4 linked regions of the Homo sapiens genome follow. The protein of the gene in region 4 interacts with the protein of the main gene of each other region in a biochemical or structural test. Each region holds a gene or a part of one and is shown on either strand. Other genes may lie near its edges.

What was found. Proteins that work in one complex are often made in the same cells at the same time.
Region 1: the proteins of HTRA3 (region 4) and TANC1 interact in a test that uses a peptide from one of them, tested with the Homo sapiens proteins (one large-scale study listed by IntAct).
Region 2: the proteins of HTRA3 (region 4) and SLC15A2 interact in a test that uses a peptide from one of them, tested with the Homo sapiens proteins (one large-scale study listed by IntAct).
Region 3: the proteins of HTRA3 (region 4) and KLHDC7A interact in a test that uses a peptide from one of them, tested with the Homo sapiens proteins (one large-scale study listed by IntAct).

What each region holds. Positions count from the first base shown.
Region 1 is NC_000002.12:158,971,256-158,976,124, forward strand, and holds part of TANC1 (protein TANC1), read left to right. Parts: intron 1-4,869. UniProt on the Homo sapiens protein: May be a scaffold component in the postsynaptic density.
Region 2 is NC_000003.12:121,941,661-121,945,673, reverse strand, and holds the end of SLC15A2 (solute carrier family 15 member 2), read right to left. Parts: 3' UTR 1,486-4,013; downstream 1-1,485. UniProt on the Homo sapiens protein: Proton-coupled amino-acid transporter that transports oligopeptides of 2 to 4 amino acids with a preference for dipeptides. Transports neutral and anionic dipeptides with a proton to peptide stoichiometry of 2:1 or 3:1.
Region 3 is NC_000001.11:18,479,250-18,484,714, forward strand, and holds the start of KLHDC7A (kelch domain-containing protein 7A), read left to right. Parts: upstream 1-1,680; 5' UTR 1,681-1,732; coding exon 1,733-4,066; 3' UTR 4,067-5,465.
Region 4 is NC_000004.12:8,302,807-8,307,598, reverse strand, and holds the end of HTRA3 (serine protease HTRA3 isoform 1 precursor), read right to left. Parts: intron 3,416-4,792; coding exon 3,320-3,415; intron 1,629-3,319; coding exon 1,463-1,628; 3' UTR 501-1,462; downstream 1-500. UniProt on the Homo sapiens protein: Serine protease that cleaves beta-casein/CSN2 as well as several extracellular matrix (ECM) proteoglycans such as decorin/DCN, biglycan/BGN and fibronectin/FN1.

The sequences.
Region 1 (4,869 bases), on a different chromosome or scaffold from region 4:
ATATTATAATGACTCCTGCCAGCATAGCTGGAGGTTAACTTTATGTCGTTGTTTCCATTAGACATTTCTAACCTAATTGTAAAGATTTTGTCTCAGTTGGGTTGAGAGTAGGGTTGAGAGTCTCATAGAAAAAGAAATGGCTTTATTTTTATCTTTATGATAAAATAAAGTTTGTGTTACAGGAATACATTTACAGAAGCAAAATAAAGAAGAGTGTTTATATATTTGTGGGGAGGATTTGTTTTAGTGTTTAAAATAGTTTGGTTTTCAACTGTCTCTTAAATGCATATTTCAGTGGTGGAAAAACCAGAACCTCTCCCTGCCCCCTTTCTCCCCACGTTATGAAAGTGTTCACTGTACAAAGAACTCTTAAGCCTTTCTGGGTCTTGGTTTTCTCATTTTTTTCATCCCTAAAATGGGATTACCTTGCATCCCTAAAGTTCTGTGACTCTCCAAAAGTTTGAGAAATGTAGGAATTCTGAAGCCAGTGCTGTAATGTTAGAACACTGCTATGGGGTTTATAAGGGCTTGATTTACACATTTTATCCCTAACCCTTTATTTGAATAAACCAAGGCCTAGAAAGTTAAATTAGACCTGTATCATCTATAAATAGTTGAGTTGAACTTGAACCAGAGTCTTCTGATTCTCCCTAGTCTCTTCTCCTCTGTTTATTCAAACCTGCCAAACAGACTAAAGTTAATATGTGGCAATTTCTCACAATACATTTTTAGGGTTATATATGAGTTATTTTGATTTCAGAACCCCAGGGTTAACATCTATGCTTTGATGTCAGGGATTAAAAACAGTTCACCAATAATGGTAATAAAACTTTCTCCTCAAGAGAGTTTCAGAAAGTCACATGCTTCAAACTAATCATTTGTTTATTTTCAACTTCTTTTTTATTAAGTAGGCTTCAGGGTGTAATGTGATTTATAATCCGGACTAGTAACCCAGACAGCATTCTTAAGGAAATCACTTCTCAAATCTGTACCTCTTTTTAAAAATAAAAAATGAACATATCATTTGCCTTTGATCTTGGTATCTCTCAGCCTAATTGCAAAGCCTGGGTGAGTATTCCTTTTTTTGGTGTCATCATTCTTGGACTGTTCCTACTGATGGCTGGATAAGTCTGATTTTGCAGCACTTTCCATGCTAAATACATCCTTCCCTTATGCTGTTGGGTTGATGGTAAAGAGGTAGTAGGTTGCAGGTGACCCATTTTTGCTGTGTCTCTAAATGTTTGTGCTTTGTCCTGCTTGCCTAGTTAGCAGCACTCACTGCAGCTTGACACTCATCTGGAGGCTGGTATTGATTTTCTTTAACAGGTTCTAAAATGCAATTATGTGTTAAGCTGTAGGCTCTTTTATGTCTGAGCAGCTTGTCCATCTTCAGCTTTTTAAACTTATTCTCAGAGGAATGTCTTTTCAAAATATTAAGCAATGGGGTTTAAACCTCAATAAGAAGATGTATCAGTGCTCATTGGCTGGGAAGGAGGTGTAGTATATCTGAAATTGCCGCCATTTCCATGAGTGAGAGAAGAGAACATTATGAAGTGCTATTAGCTAGAGAAGTTGGGACACTTTGTACCAGGAGGGCACAAGAGCAGCAAAGGAGAAGAATGATTCTTGGTTTTTAATAATATTATCAGGAGCATGGATTTGGAATGATAGAGGACTTTGAAGAAGGCTTTCAGAGGACATTATCTTGTGGAGAGTGAAAGGAGTTCTCCTGGTTTGGTTTAGCTGTGTTGCTGATGGAACTTGCCCTTCTAGGGTCGGTGTTGTCTTTAGGTTCCCCTGCAGGTGGGTGTGATCAAGGAGAATGTTCTAGAAAGAAGAGTTCCATAGACAGAATGTCAAGGACAAAAGTGTTGCAGAGGGATGACATAGTTCCTGGATTTTAGCACAGATTTTTTCGCTAACATGAGGGAATTTATTAGGGGAAACCTTCCAGTTGTAGAGGTAGACAGATGCGAACCCATCATGTTCAGTTCACATAGCCCAGAGCCACAGTGACTCAACCTCTTCCCTGCCCCACCTCAGCACACCTAGGGTTACGTGCCAGTCATGAACAGTGGCTTATTACCTCTTTGGGTAGGAGATGGGGGTGGAGAGTAGGGAAGTCTCTCAGAAGCACTCAGCTGTGACCTTTTCATGCATGTATACCCATGCAAAAATGGGATCCTCTGTTGCATGAGCTTTTGAAGAAATATGAAAAAGATCATACGTATACGGCTGCTGGTATTATAGCTCTCAAGCCTCACATCCAGAATTGGCCTTTTTGATGTTAGTTCCAATTTGGGAAAGCCCTGGAGGGAACCCGAATTGGCTTGATGCCAGCCAAAGGAGAGTTACGGTTAGACCCATAAAATGGGGCTGTGGGGAGACAAAGTATCCCACAAAGAAGAGGGTTATTGTTAATGGAAGAGGGAGGGAGCTGGATCAACAAAAGAGCTAGCCAGGGCAGTGTACATTTCCACAAGTGGTACTGCTGATCATAACAACATACCAAAGGATATGAAGATTCTTAATGTTGTTGTGATGTACACCCCTGTAGTCTTGAGGGCAGTGGACTTGTCCACATTCTGTGGGACTCTGAATTGCTATGTACACAGACATGAGGGGGTATTGAATTACTGCTAAAAACGTAAGAGTTGGTCATTATTCCCATGTAACCCATTACACTCCCCTCTCTCTGCCATGCTTTGTTCTAAATTACTTGGGATAAGTAACATTAATTATTAATGTTTATTGAGTGCCGGCTGACTCTGAACTACATGTTTGAATTTTAAAAGTCTGTGGATGAAACAGTTTGGTTCTTTCTTCTCCTGTTGTCCTACATACGTAGAATACTATGGCAGGGATGGTCACCATACAACAGCATTCTGTGTTCTGGTCCTCCTTGCTTCTTGTGGCTTAACAACAACTGTTTATTTGCTTGGGATTCAGAAATGGGGGCCAGGTTCCCTGTGCCTAGGCTCACTGGTGCCGTGGTGGTTACATGATTCATTGAGGGCCATTGCTGCAATAGTTTACAACATTATAACCATCCTTGATACCTATGGAAGATTGGTTCCAGGATTCCCACGGATACTAAAATCCTCAAATGCTTAAGTCCCTTATTAAAAATCATGTATTATTTGCATATAGCTTATGCATACCCTCATATATATATATTTTTTAATTTTATTATTTCGAGACAGAGTCTCACTCTGTTACCCAGGCTGGAGCACAGTGGTACAATCTCAGCTACTGCAACCTTTGCCTCCCGGGTTCAAGTGATTCTCCTGCCTCGGCCTCCCGAGTAGCTGGGATTACAGGCATGTGCCACCACGCCTGGCTAATTTTTGTGTTTTTAGTAAAGATGGGGTTTCACCATGTTGGCCAGGCTGGTCTTGAACTCCTGACCTCAGGTGATCCACCTGCCTCAGCCTCCCAAAGTGCTGGGATTACAGGCGTGAGCCACCTTGCCTGGCCTCCTTTGTATTTTATTTTGAGAAAGGGTTTCCATTTGTTGCCCAGGCTGGACTGCACTGGTGTGATCATGGCTCACTGCATCCTCAACCTCCTGGACTCATGCAATCCTTCCACCTCAGCCTCCTAAGTAGCTGGGAGTACAGGTGCACACCACCACACCCAGCTAATTTTTGTATTTTTTTTTTTTTTTTTTTTTTGTAGAGACAGGGTCTTACTATGAGACCAGACCAGGCTGGTCTCAACTCTTGGTTCAAGTGATCCTCCTGCCTTGGCCTCTCAAAGTGCTGGGATTACAGGCATGAGCCAACCCCCCAGTCCTCCTTCATACTTTAAATCATCTCTAGATTATTTATAATACCTAATATAATGTAAATGCTAGATAAATAGTTGTTATTCTGTATTGTTTTAAAATTTATATTTTTATTGTATTTATTGTATTTTATTGTGTTTATTGTATTGTTATCTTTTTTCCAGTGGTCAGTTACTAGAATATTTTTTGAATATTTTCTAACCTAGGTTTGTTGAATCTGTGGCCATGGAACCTGAGATATGGAGGGTTGGGTGTGGAGGGGGGTGACTGTGCTTACTACTATAATCCTGCTTTTGATTAGTTTTCCACTGGCCATGTACTTAAGGGTAAGGTGGATGCGTCCCCTGCCCCAGGGAGTGAATTTTGATTAAGCCATCAATTTTAGTAATGCCATACCTTTTGCCAGTGACTCATTAATGAATATGTATGTGACGCCTGTTAGGTCCTGGCATATTTGAAGCATAAGGTTGTCAGCACAAGAGAACAAGTAGCACCGAGTGCAGACTAAAGGTGGCCTAAGACCACAATTACTTTTTTTTTTTTTGTCGGTGTCAGGGGTGTAGGAGGCGGGCGGGTAGAGACAGGGTCTCACCATGTTGCCCAGGCTCGTCTCGAACTCCTGGCCTCAAGCAATCCTTCCACCTCAGTTTCCCAAAGTGCTGGATTACAGAGTGAACCACCATCCCCAGCCCACAATGACTTATTTTAGCTGCTGATTAGCCAGCCCTAGAACCACTGTGACTCAGAACTTCTGTGAGAAAAAACATTTTCGTTATTGTTTCTTTCTTATCTTTTTTTTTTTTTTTTTTAAGCTAGGGTCTCACTCTATCACCCAGGCTGGACTGCAGTGGCATGATCATGGCTCACTGTAGCCTCTGCCTCCTGGGCTCAAGTGATCCTCCCACCTCAGCCTCCCAAATAGCTGGGACTACAGGTGTGCACCACCACACCTGGCTAATTTTTGTATTTTTTGTAGAGATGGGGTTTCCCCATGTTGCCCAGGCTGGTCCCGAACTCCTGGGCTCAAGGGATCCTCCCACCTTGGCCTCCCAAAGTGCTGGGATTACAGGTGTGAGCCACTG
Region 2 (4,013 bases), on a different chromosome or scaffold from region 4:
GTACTTTCTTTAGGTCAAAGATAAAAATTCATTTTTATCTAATTACAACACAGAGTGTGTCATTTATATTAAATTGCATTCTCCTGAGTTTCCTCATATTTCATAGGTCACCCATCTCATTGCCTTTGCTGCATCCTCCTCTTCTCCAAACCTCCAATGTTGGAGGACCCCCAAGCTCAACCATTCCTTGACCATTTCTCTCACTCTCTCTCTCTTTTTTAGAGATGGGGTCTCACTCTATGGGCCAGGCTGGAGTGCAGTGGTGTGATCATCACTCCCTGTAGCCTCAAACTCCTGGGCTCCAGCAATCCTCCTTACCTCAGCCTTCTGAGTAGCTGGGACTACAAGTGCACACCAGCACACCCGAACCTACATGATCTGATCCCTAGCTTCCTTTGTATATTTTACCTCTTTGCCCCTTATTCTTGTCAAACTGTCCTTCTTGCTCATCATTTCTCTATACACATTCACTTCTTGGGAAATCTCTTCCAGTTTGATGGCTTTAAATACCATATATATGCTGATGATTCTCAAGTTTATGTTTCTAGCTCCAACCTCTTACCTGATCTTCAGACTCATATATGAAACTGCTAACTTAATGTCTCTAATTGGATATCCATTAGCATGGGTAGAAGCTCAACATGTCCAAAACAAAACTCATACCAGAAAACTTTTCTTATCCTAGTCTTTGCTATTTCTAGAAAATTGCATCCTGATTCATCCTTACTACTTAGGACCAAATCTAGGAGTGAGCTTTTTTCTTTCTTTCTTTTTCTTTTCTTTTTCCTTCCTTCCTTCCTTCCTTCCTTGCTTCCTTCCTTCCTTCCTTCCTTTCTCTCTCTCTCTCCACCCCCCACCGCTTCTTTCATTTTGAGACAGGGTCCTATTGTCCAGGCTGGAGTACAGTGGTGTGATCATAGCTCATTGCAGCTTTAAGCACCTGGGCTCAAGGGATTGTTCTGCCTCAGCCTCCTGAGAAGCTGGGGTTGCAGGTGCACACCACCACACCCGGCTAATTTTTTTATTTTTATTTCTTGTAGAGAGGGGGTCTCATTATGTTGCCTAGAGTGGTCTTGAACTCCCGGCTTCAAAGAATCTTCCTGCCTTATCCTTGCAAAGAATTGAGATTACAGGTGTAAGGCACCACATCTGGCGCATTTCTTTCTTTTAAATTGTGTATCCAAACTACACTCAAATCTTGTCAGTTCTAGCTTAAAGTTTAATTCCAAGTCAAACCATTTCTCTCCACCTCCACTACTATCACCTTGTCCAAGTCACTACCATCTATTGCCTGAACTATTGCAAAAGCCTCCTAACTTAACTCCTTACTTCTTTTCCTTCCTGACTATAGATAATTCTCCCCTTAGCAGCCAAAGTGATCTTAAATGATCACATTATGTCACTCTCATGTTCTAAACTTCCAATGGTTTAACATGTCACTTAGAATAACATCAAAATGTCTTACAATGGTGACAGTCATATATGTCCATATATAGTCAGAGTCTTTAATATGCAAATGTTAAGAAAAACTCTATATTGCAGTTTCAGTCAATGACAGACCAAATATGTGATGGTGGTCCCATTAGATTATAATACTGCATTTATACCTCTTTTCCAATTTGTGTGTCCACATTTTTTCAAATGAATTATGTCATTCACTTTTTAAAAAATTGATACATAACAGATATAGACATTTTCAGAGCACATATGAATAATTTGATACATCTATATAATGTGTAAAGTTTTTTGTACCGTTTCTATGTTTAGATATGTTTAAGTATAAAAATACCATTGTGTTACAATTGCCTACAGCATTTAATACAGTAACATGCTGTGCAGGTTTGTAGCCTAGGAGAAACAGTCTACACCATATAGCTGGAGAAACAGTCTATACCATATAACTTAGATGTGTAGTAGGCTATACCATAGGTTTGTGTAAGTACACTCTATGATGTTTGCATAATGACAAAATTGCCTAACAATGCATTCCTCAAATGTATCCCTGTCATTAAGTGATAAGTGCTAGAATGTAAGCCCACATTATGATGTAGTTTCCAAAAACAACTCATGTTACCTTACACTGCATTAACAGAAGTGCATTGTTTGAAGAAAGGCAGGTGCTAGTTCTTCCAGTCAGACTACTTTGGAATGTTATATTTGACTCCAGGCACTTCATATTAAGATATCTTAATATTAATTGCTGTATTTCAGATAAAGAATGTTTTTCAGAAGACAGAAAGTAGGATGGTAAAAGGACAAATTATGCCTGGTGAGGAACCATTACAGGAACCGAGAATCTTTACCTTGAATACTTGATGATTAGGGAAGAGCCATGAAAGTTCTCCCCAAATAGCTAAACATCTGCCACATGAAAAAGGGGGTATACATATTCTTTTCTTTTTTTTTTTAGATGAAGTCTCACTCTTGTCCCCCAGGCTAGAGTGTGATGGCGTGATCTCGGCTCATTGCAACCTCTGCCTCCCGGGTTCAAGCAATTCTTCTGCTTCAGCCTCCCGAGTAGCTGGGATTACAGGCACCTGCCATCACACCTGGCTAATTTTTGTACTTTTAGTAGAGACACGGTTTCACCATGTTGGCCAGGCTGGTCTCGAACTCCTGACCTCAGGTGATCCACCTGTCTCAGCCTCCCAAAGTGCTGGGATTACAGGCATGAGCCACTGTGCCTGGCCGGCTGTTATACTTATTCTTGTTAGCTACAGGGGAAAAAAAACAATGGTAGGAGGTTTCAGAGAGGAAGCTCAGCACTTACAAGGAAGAACTGCTCAACAGTTTTTTCCAAACCAATGTTCTGCAGCGTACATGTTAATTTAAACAAGGTATCTTGTGTCTTTACTGCAGGATATCTCAGAGTCTTTAATATGCAAATGTTAAGAAAAGGATACAGTATGCCACATTTCCCAAACTTATTTGTCCATAGACACTTCTATTTACAGAACTGTGTTAATGTCTCTTGAAACAATGGTCATAGAACAGTTTGGGTTAAAGCTATTTAAAAATGAACAGGCTGTCTTCTAAAGGAGTAGGGTCAGGTTCACATCAAGATATCTGGAAAAACTGGTTGGTCTGGCTGCCGCTCTTATATTTCTGAAATGCTTGTCATTAAAACTGAAGTATATAAAGTTTGGGCACTTAGAGCAATTTCTCTTACCTGTTAACAGTAACATTATCTGTTAATATTAACAGGTGCCTGTTAACATGAACATTGTTACGTATTAACATTAACAGTATGAGACCCAACACTGTTCTACATGAGAATAATGTTTTAAAACCAATGGAAATGAAGCTCTCTAGAACAGTGATTCTGAACTTTTTTCCTAGTAACACACTGCACAGTCGTGCCATTCCCGTGTCTGTCCTCTGATTCATTCATTGTGTATGAGGTAATGTTTCTCAATTTTTTTTCATGACCATACACATACACAAACAAAACCCTCATGCTCTACCATCCCTACTCCCACAAATTTTGATAGGAACCTCACATAGGACCATGCTCCTCTATTGACATTTCCATTTTAGAACCTCAAACCTAGAGCATTAATGTAACTTTTTTTGAATAAAAAGAAAATTTCTAGGCTTCAAGGCAGAAATGGTATTTAAAACTTATGGGAAAAGTAAATCAGGAAAACAACATCAAAAAGGAACTACTTTGATATTTTTGAGGCTAAATGGAAACATTAATAAAGGAAGTTGGACTTATAGAAACATTGTTGTTATTGAATATTTGCTGCAATAAGCAAGACAAGGTGTAATAATAAGAAAAAGCTGGATCAGCAAGGTTGACAAGACAAGGTTGCAAATTATAATTATTGTTTATACAACTGTTCACTGAAGGGCATAGACCAGCGCCATAGAGGCTAAGAAGAATGTACTCTGTAAAAGAATGACTGGCTCTTCAGGATTTCTACAACTTACACCTGTTCCTGTTCTCCAGAACAATGTTTACTAATGCTTACTATCTCTAATCTGGTTTCCATGATCTATCCATACTGAGA
Region 3 (5,465 bases), on a different chromosome or scaffold from region 4:
AGCCTAAAAGAGGAGCATCAGAGAACACGAGACCCAAAGGAAGAAAAGGTGATCTTGGACGGATGAAGGCACCAGGGAAGAAGGCCCAGACACAGCCTTTTACCCAACTCTGATGGGCCAGAGGGATGTCCACCAGCCTTCCCTGCCAAGAAGTCACCCTGAGCCCGGTTTGCTAGGCAGTGATCAGGAGATGCATCTGGAAGAGTAAACCGAAGCTGGTACACAGAGAGTTGTGAACGTCGGCATAGGGAGTCAGGATTGTCTCCTAGAGTCAAAGCCTTCAGAGCCAAATTCCTCCCATGCGTGTGCTTCCTGTGGCCCACAGTGTTTTTCAGTTTCATTTTTGAATCAGATGCCAACATTTTAAAATTGAGAGTGATTATGTCACTACTGGGATTCTAAGCTTTTTGCGACAGTGGGAGGATGAGGCAATGCTGGGCCTGATACCATCGGCTGGGGTGGGGCGGACAGACGTCCTTACTTGTTCACTTTACCTACCCAGCCTCCATATGCAGCAAGAGTTTGAGACCCCTGCACAGGACTTTGGGGACTCTTTGAGGACCTTGGTCAGGAGAAGGGTAGAATTAGTTCTGTGCTTTGGAAGGTCCTCTGATGACAATTGATACTAGCGATGATGGTGCCGATGATCAGAAAGAGGAAAAGGAGGAAGAAGCAGAGAATAGTTCATATTTACTAAGCTTTCATGATGGGGGCTCTGCCCCAGTGTTTATTCCTAGTAGCCCATTTAGTTCTCCCCACAAGCTGATGAGGTGCGTATGCTGTCATCCTCCTTTTTCAGACAAAGCACAGAGCGGTGAGGTCTCTTGCCTAAGGTCATATAGTTGGTAAGTAGCAGAGCCAGGTAGTCTGGGTCCAGGACCCACAGCACTGGTGATGGGGGAGGGGAAATGGTGAGGGGGGGTCTGGGAGACGTGAGTCTTCCCTCAATCTTTCACCGTAGGAGATTGTCTGGTTTTAAAAGAGAAGATGTGTCCACATCTAACCCCGATCTGAGCACTAATGCAATGTCTTTCTCCACTGTTCTCAGAAAGGCTGGTTTTTCTTAATAAACTTGTCAGGCAGGGAAGGAGGGCAGAGGCACTCAAGGGCCGGCTCAGGTGGCTTGGCTGCATGCCCTGGCTCCAGACTCCACTGCCATGTTCCCGTTCCCTGCTTGGCCAGCATAAAGTTGACCCCACTGTGAGGACCAGCAGACCTCACAAGAATGACCCCATCCACGCCTACTGGGGCTCCACCTGCCCATGACTCACCACACCCAAGCCTCTGAGCCCAGTGGACTTGCAAAAGAGAAAATAAAGCACACACATAAAGAATAACCAACCCCATGCATTTCCTGGCATCGGGTGACTGTTTGGTTAAGAGCTTCCTCCTCTTTTGTATGCCCACTGGATACTCCTAACATCCCCTAGCTGCTGACCACAGAGCTGGCTTAGGTGGCTGATCACAAGCTCAGCCCCTGGGCGGGCCCCCCACCCCAGCCACCAGGGAAGCATGGAAGGAGGCCAGCCGCTGGGATCTGCCAGCTCTGGGCCCCAGCGGCCACCCTCTGCAGCTCAAAGTCACCTTTGCTCCTCTCCTCTCCTCGGCTGGCCAGCCAGAACCAGCCCAGAACTCCCTCCCCTCCGCTCAGCAGGACCCAGGAACTGGTCCCTACTGGGCAATTATTAATCAGATTCTTGACATTCCTCAGCCCCAGGTTGGCTGGAGAAGCATGTTCCCCAGAGGAGCAGAGGCCCAGGACTGGCATTTGGATATGCAGCTGACCGGCAAGGTGGTGCTGTCAGCCGCTGCCCTGCTCCTGGTGACTGTGGCCTACAGGCTGTACAAGTCGAGGCCTGCCCCAGCCCAGCGGTGGGGTGGGAATGGCCAGGCAGAAGCCAAGGAGGAAGCAGAGGGCTCAGGGCAGCCTGCTGTACAGGAGGCTTCTCCTGGGGTGCTCCTGAGGGGGCCAAGACGTCGGAGGAGCAGCAAGCGGGCTGAAGCACCACAGGGCTGCAGCTGTGAGAATCCAAGAGGCCCCTATGTCCTGGTCACGGGGGCCACTTCCACAGACAGGAAGCCCCAGAGAAAAGGCTCAGGTGAGGAGCGGGGCGGGCAGGGCTCGGACTCTGAGCAGGTGCCTCCTTGCTGCCCCAGCCAGGAAACCAGAACAGCTGTTGGCAGTAACCCTGACCCTCCCCATTTCCCCCGCTTGGGCAGCGAACCGAAGAGCTCCCCAGCTGGACTCATTGCAGCAGCCGACGGCAGCTGTGCCGGTGGTGAGCCTTCTCCATGGCAGGACAGTAAACCCCGTGAGCATCCAGGACTGGGGCAACTAGAACCTCCCCACTGTCACTACGTGGCTCCCTTGCAAGGCAGCAGTGACATGAACCAGAGCTGGGTCTTCACCCGTGTGATAGGGGTCAGCAGAGAAGAGGCTGGGGCTCTCGAGGCTGCCTCCGATGTTGACCTGACCCTGCATCAGCAGGAGGGCGCCCCCAACTCCTCCTATACCTTCTCATCCATAGCCCGCGTCCGAATGGAGGAGCATTTCATACAGAAGGCGGAGGGGGTTGAGCCCCGGCTCAAGGGCAAGGTGTACGACTACTATGTGGAATCTACCTCTCAGGCCATCTTCCAGGGCAGGCTGGCTCCCAGGACAGCAGCCCTGACTGAGGTTCCATCCCCTAGGCCACCGCCAGGGTCCCTGGGAACAGGGGCTGCCTCGGGAGGCCAAGCCGGTGACACAAAGGGTGCAGCCGAAAGAGCCGCCTCCCCGCAGACAGGGCCGTGGCCCTCCACCCGAGGCTTCAGCCGGAAGGAGAGCCTTCTGCAGATAGCGGAGAACCCAGAGCTGCAGCTGCAGCCAGATGGCTTCCGGCTCCCCGCTCCACCCTGCCCAGACCCGGGCGCCCTGCCTGGCTTAGGCAGAAGCAGCCGGGAGCCCCATGTGCAGCCGGTGGCCGGGACCAATTTCTTCCATATCCCGCTCACCCCTGCTTCAGCCCCACAGGTCCGCCTGGATCTGGGCAATTGCTATGAGGTGCTGACCTTGGCCAAGAGGCAGAACCTGGAGGCCCTGAAAGAGGCGGCCTACAAGGTGATGAGCGAAAACTACCTGCAGGTGCTGCGCAGCCCGGACATCTACGGGTGCCTGAGCGGGGCAGAGCGCGAGCTGATCCTGCAGCGCCGGCTCCGGGGCCGCCAGTACCTGGTGGTGGCTGACGTGTGCCCCAAGGAAGACTCCGGCGGCCTCTGTTGCTATGACGATGAGCAGGATGTCTGGCGCCCGCTGGCTCGCATGCCCCCCGAGGCCGTGTCCCGGGGCTGTGCCATCTGCAGTCTCTTCAATTATCTCTTCGTGGTGTCCGGCTGCCAGGGGCCCGGGCACCAGCCCTCCAGCCGCGTCTTCTGCTACAACCCGCTCACGGGGATCTGGAGCGAGGTGTGCCCGCTGAACCAGGCCCGGCCGCACTGCCGGCTGGTGGCCCTGGACGGGCACCTGTATGCCATCGGCGGAGAGTGTCTGAACTCGGTGGAGCGTTACGACCCCCGCCTGGACCGCTGGGACTTTGCCCCGCCGCTCCCCAGTGACACGTTCGCCCTGGCGCACACGGCCACGGTGCGTGCCAAGGAAATCTTCGTCACCGGCGGCTCGCTGCGCTTCCTGCTGTTCCGCTTCTCTGCGCAGGAGCAGCGCTGGTGGGCCGGCCCCACCGGGGGCAGCAAGGACCGCACGGCCGAGATGGTGGCGGTCAACGGCTTTCTCTACCGCTTTGACCTCAACCGCAGCCTGGGCATCGCCGTGTACCGCTGCAGCGCCAGCACCCGGCTCTGGTACGAGTGCGCCACGTACCGGACGCCTTACCCGGATGCCTTCCAGTGCGCCGTGGTGGACAACCTCATCTACTGCGTGGGACGCCGGAGCACCCTCTGCTTCCTAGCAGACTCTGTCTCACCCAGGTTTGTGCCCAAGGAGCTGCGGAGTTTCCCGGCCCCGCAGGGCACCCTCCTGCCCACCGTCCTGACCTTGCCCACCCCCGATTTGCCTCAGACCAGGGTCTAGCAGTCCCTCAACTGAGCTCCTCATGCAAAGCTGGGGGCCACCGGGCTCCACTGCCAGCCGTCCCTCTGGGGGCCATTTCTAGGCAAACAGGCAACCCAGGAATGTGGCCATCAAGAGGTGAATTCCGGTCCTTTCTCCTCCCCTAGCTGGGGAGAGAGGGATCTTAGATGAGTCTTACCCTTCATGGGCTGCAGAGGCCCCACTGCAGAAAAGAGGACCAGGAGCTGGTGTTCCAAGGCAGAAGGCATTCATGTCTTCAGGGATGACCGCCCTTGCTTCAACTCTGAATTCTTGGGGGGATACACCGGGACCCCACCAAAGCTTAGGGGGCATAGTCTTTTTGCAATCACAATTCTAGGAGCCAGTTGACCCCAGCAGCCCCTCGCTAGTTGCTCTGGAGAGGGGTTGGCTCTCTGAGCCATCAGTGCCCCTTCCTAAACATCAGCCACTGGGCCCCACCTCCACAGTTCCCAGAAGCACCGGGACACACAGGTGGGAAAGATGGAGGCAGGTGACTTGGGCAGGGCCAGGAAGGAGCCGAGGGAGCCCCAGGGGCCCTGGCCAGAGGGAGTGGTGGTTTGAAAAGTAGAACAGCTGAAGCTGGGGCCAGCCTAGGAGACTCTTGCTTGCGAGAAAATATACCAAAGCCCACATTACTTTTCTCCTTATTGGAAGAAAGAGAAGCAGCCATTGTACCAAGCTATCTTCTGGTGGAGGTCTGCTAAGGATACACGGAGGTCTCAGCAAAGGGAAGAAACTATGTGATCCAAGGGCCACCCTGCTCCTCGGCCCTGCCCATGTTAACTGACCATTGCACTCATTCTCAGATCTGTAGCCGTCTTCCTGTCTGGAAGCTGGGGCAACCACCACCAGTCAGCACTTCAGGGTGACAGCATAATTTGCCCTCCTTGTGCCAGGTACGGTCACCTGGTTTGCCGCATTCACATTTTCAGGTGGATGACCAAGCGGAGGAACTAGAAGAGTCTAGTGAAGCATCCAGAGACTGGATCTCCTTTCACATCTGGTTTGATAAACTCCGAATGAAGGAGACCCCCAGCCTCAGGAAAGCACCTGTCCTTCCAGGAGGGACGGGAGAGAGCCTGACCCAGTGTATTACCACAGCCCTTGTTCCACCTCTGAGGGAGACAGTGACAGATGGGAAGGCAGTGATGCTCTTGGTCCCAGCCAGAAGCCAGGGGAGATGGGAGGTACACCAGAGCAGGGCCTGACAAGGAAGAAAATAAGGATGCTTTGGACCTCAGTGTCCTTGTCTTGAAAATGGGAAGGACAATTCATGTCCCTGTCTGCCCTGGGGATAAATGAGAGGATAAAAGAGAAAGTTCTTCCCAGTTTCCCAGGTGGTCCCAGCTAGATCCTGTGTCCACGGAAGCTGCTGGTG
Region 4 (4,792 bases):
AAATTGCTCTCTGCCTCAGTTTCCCCATCGCTGGATGGGTGGCAGGGAGGGTGAAATAGATGTGAGAAAGGGTTCTTCATGTGACCAGACGTGCACAGTGGGGCTTAGTGGGAGCTCCCCGTAAGCCGGGTGGCTTCCCAAGTGCTGCATCTGTCACCTTGCATCCCAGGGCATCCAGGAGGTCAGCACAGCAGAGCCAGCCTTCCTGCTGGACAGAGGCAGAGGCCAAGGTAGGGAGGGGAACATCTCTTGCCCAAGACCACGAAGCCGGAAGTAAGCGGAGGAGCCAGGACTTGAGCCGGGCTGCCTGACTCGGAGCTGGCCCTCCACAGCGCCACATGACCCCGAGACCTGGTGTGCCCCAGTGCTCAGCTGTCATAGAAACCCTTTAAAGGCCCGTGTCTTTGCAGGTATGCCCAGTCATGTGTTAGATGGGTCCCCAGGAAGAACCCTGGCCAGTGGTGGGTAGGCTGCCCCAGTGCCCTGCTGGCTGAGAACCGTGTGCTTGTAAACTTTATTTTCCATACAGTAGAGAAACATACAGTACAAGCAACACTGGGAATCCATTTACAGCAAAGCTCACAAATGCCCCTTGAGACACACTCGTTCCCTGGATGAGGGGGTGGTGCCCAGCAGCCTGCATGCCTCTGGGCGGCACTTCCATGCGAGCGGCTGCTGCATCCCAGAGCTGCGTGGGAAGGGGAAGCCGGCTCAGTCCTCACACCCCGCAGCTCCACGTCCACTGTCCTCTGCAGGCTGCCCCATGGCCGCCTTGGGGAGGAGAAGCTTCCCCAGGCAGCAGCCAACTTTCCACGTGCTCCCCGCGGCCTCCTGCCTGCCTGGGGAGGAAAACCTCATGGCAGGGCGGGGCTCAGCTCCGCAGCCAGGGGGCATTCACTCAGTGCCTGCTCTGGGCTGGACCCCACCCCCGCACCCCAAAGGGATCAGATGTGACCTGTCCTCCAGGGACCCCAGGCTGGCAGGCAGCAGCCCTGGCCCTACAGCTTGGTAAGTCCTAGGGCAGAGGGAAGCTGGGGCCTCAGGTCAGGTGGGCGTTTGTCAGGGGGGAAGAAGCTTGGCAGCCCAGACCTGCAGTAGGAGGGGCAGGAGCAGGGGATACTGCAGATGGGTGTTCACAGGGGCAGAGGCGGGAAGCTAGGAGAGGAGGGGACCTCCATGGAAGGCAGTTTTGTGAATATCCGGAGAACTTGGAAGTGACTTTCAGGATCATCTGTACAAGGGGATGTTGGGCTTCCCTCCCCGGCACCGGGATGTGGATCCAACACTCCCCAGGCGGAAATTCGGGCCCCTGGCCAAGCCCAGCCTCCGCTCTGCCCCGGACAGCCAGGAGGAGGCTGCCGCCCTGCTGAGGACCGACGGTGGTCCTTCGTCCTGATCTCGGGGGGGCGCTGCCCTCCGTTGTCTGCAGGCTCTGACGCTTGGCGCTGGAGGAATGCGCCCCTCACATGACCACCTCAGGTGCGATGCTGAAGAGGAGGTCGTCGTTCCCCCGCCGCACCTCCAGTAGGAGAGGAGACTCGGTCAGCACGGCCTCCTGCAGCTCACTCGAGTCCACTAGAGGACGCCCGTTGACCTTGACGATGATGTCACCATCTTGGATGCCGCCTCTGCCAACAGGAGAGACGGGGTCACCACCCACCGCCTCCCCAGGCACAGCCTTCCCAGGCCCGGCCCAGAGCGAGGCACAGTCAGGGTCAATGACAACATTTCAACAAAAGTCATCTCGATGGGAAAGAACAGTGCCCCAGCCCCAAAGCTCTCACACCAGAAGAAAACCAATGTCACACGACAGGGAAACAACCTTTCAAACTGCTTCTCCCATGCGTCAGAAGGGTGGGTTCAAGCTCCCGCTGCAGCCCTCCTAGCTGGGCCAGGCACTCTGTCCCCTTGTGCCTCAGTTTTCATGTCTACCATCCTATGTGGAAACGCACTTTGCAAATTATAAAGGCCCAGGAGTAGGTTCTGCTGTTACTGCAGTTACGAAGACGTCTATGTGGGAGGCAGAGCTCACGGGGCCAGCCTTCTCTCTGCATGAGGCTCACTGAGACCTCCCCACTGCTGGGAAGGAAGGTGATGGTACTGTGCTCAGCTGCGTGGGCACCAGCATCAGGACCCTCACATGCCAGCTGTGTGACCTGGAAGAGTAACTTCTCTAAACCTCAGTCCCTCCACCTGTAAAATGGGTGAGGGCAGGAGCCTGCACCTCCCTGGCTGCAGTGAGGATTAACTGAGATGTGTGTGGAAAATTTCACCCAATTTCAACAATTTTTACTGCAGGCCTGCTGCGGGCAGGACAAGTGTGCCATCTGTGCTCATCACAGAAGTTCACGCGGGGCCTCCCACCTTCAAGCCCAGCCTCTGAGGATGCACAGTACAGTCGGCCCTTGAACAACATGGGTCTGAACTGTGTGGGTCCACTTATATGTGGATTTTTCCCACTGCAGATGAAGACCGAGGCTAAGGAGGGGAGGCAACTGGTTCAGAGCCCTTCTTGGGAGTGGGTCAGCCATGCCAGCATGTGGTAGTGTCGCTGCACGCCTGCCTCAGCCTATGGTGTTGCAATGCTTAACATTTCTCTAGTACTGGAAGACTTCAAAGAAAGCAATCCTTTATCCATTTCATCTACAAAGTCTCCTGGGGGTAGAAATCCCAGCACTTTGGGAGGCCAAGGCAGGTGGATCGCCTGAGGTCAGCAGTTCAAGACTAGCCTGGCCAACGTGGTGAAACCCCTTCTCTACTAAAAATACAAAAACAATTAGCAGGGCATGGTGGTGGGCACTTGTAATCTGAGCTACTCAGAAGGCTGAGGCAGGAGAGTCGCTTGAGCCCAGGAGGCAGAGGTTGCAGTGAGCTGAGATCGCGACACTGCACTCCAGGCTGGGCAACAAGAGGGAGACTGTCTCAAAAAAAAAAAAAAAAAAAAAAAAAAAAAAACAATAGGCTGAATTATCTCCACTTTACAATGAGGAAGCTGAGTCCCAGAAAGACCCAGGACCCAGGCTGGTCCCCAGCTAGTGAAAGAGTCTGGCTTGGAGTGGGTTCTTAGCCCAACAGGGACTCTTCAGCCTCTGCTTCTCGAAGGAAATGACATTGTGGGACTTAGGACGTACACAGTCAGGGCTCTAGGGACCATTCAGCTCTCCAGCCTCCTCTGGCTTAGCAGACACGCTAGAATCCACCTGCCCCTTCCCGGTCACTTTGCTGGGAAGCTCAAGGTCACATGAGGTCAGTGGGGCAGCCCCAGCCCAGACCTCACGCCTGCCCCATGCCTCGAGCGATCTCCTCTGGCAGAGCCTACCTCTGAGAAGGTGAATTCGGCGCAACCTCTTGCACATAAATTCCACTGCTGACCTCTGGGAAGTCCGGGTTGCTGGCCTTCAGCTCATCCACCAGGCTGGAAAGAGTCTGCCGTCAAGGCCCCTCCCCTGAGCCTTTGCCCAGCTCTTTGGTATGAAGCTGCCCCTCCCTCCCTCCAGCACCAGACCAGAAGAGGAGCCACCTCTGGGCCCCCATACTGCCCTGTCCCACCACTGGCCACTCTGTGTCCCCTACCAGATGTGCTTCTTAAGAGAAACGTGGTAGCAATAGCTGGTTAGAAGCGTGAAGAGAGGAGAGAGAGTGGGTAGACAGGTGGGAGGAGGGGCGGGAGGATGGATGGATGGATGGATGGATGGATGAATGAAGGAATGATGCTGGATGGGTGGATAGAAGGAGAAATGGACAGACAGGCAATGCTGAGTCATGGAATGGACAGACAATGCTGAGTCACGGAACGTACAGACAATGCTGAGTCACGGAACGGACAGACAATGCTGAGTCATGGAATGAACAGACAATGCTGAGTCATGGAACAGACAGACAGAAGACTGGACAGAGGTGGGATGGACAGACAGATAAAAGAGACAGAAAACAAAAGATAAATTGGCATACTGGACATTGATAATTTTTTTCAAATGTCACCCCTAGATTAGCAGAGTTGGTGAAACAGGAGGAATGACAGCTTTAGGGACTGTGTGCTTTGAGGAAATGGTCACTTGAGCATTCTCGAGTTCTTCCTAGGCTCCCGATGCAGTGACCTCTCCCTTCTTCAAACCTCGAAGCTCAAGTTTGTACTTCCAGCCTCCCTTCTATCCTGCCCCTGCTTCCTCTCCCCCAGCCCCTTCTTTCTTGCACTCATTCAGCATTTCCAGGCACCTGCTCTGCAGTGGACCTGCTTTTGGGGCAGAGTGGAGGAATAAGTAGGTCACAGTCCTTGCTCCCAAGGAGCTGACAGCCGAGGAGGCAGGATGGGGTGGGGCGGTCCCACCACAGGTGATTCCGACACAGCAGGATGAGTTCAAGGCTGGAGAGGGAGGCCAGGGCTCTGTGTGCTATGAGGAGGCACCTTCTGCCACTTGAGTGTCCTGGGAATGCAGAATGGTGTTCCCCCAAATTCGTGTACACCCAGAGCCTCAGAATGTGACCTTGTTTGGAAATAGGACCTTTATAGATGTCATTAGTTGAAGATCTTGAGAAGAGACCTTCTTGGTTTAGAGTGGGCCCTAACTCCAATGATGGATGTTTTCATAAGAGAAACGAGAGAGAGATGTGCACACAGATACTCAGAGAGAAAGAAGGTCAAGTGAAGACAGAGGTAGAGACTGCAGGGAGGCAGCCACAAGCCAAGGATGCCTGGAGCCAGCAGAAGCTGGAAGGGGCAAGGAAGTAGCTTTCCCTGGAGCCTCAGAGGCAGAGTGCAGCCCTGCCGACCCCTTGACTTCAGATCCCCGAC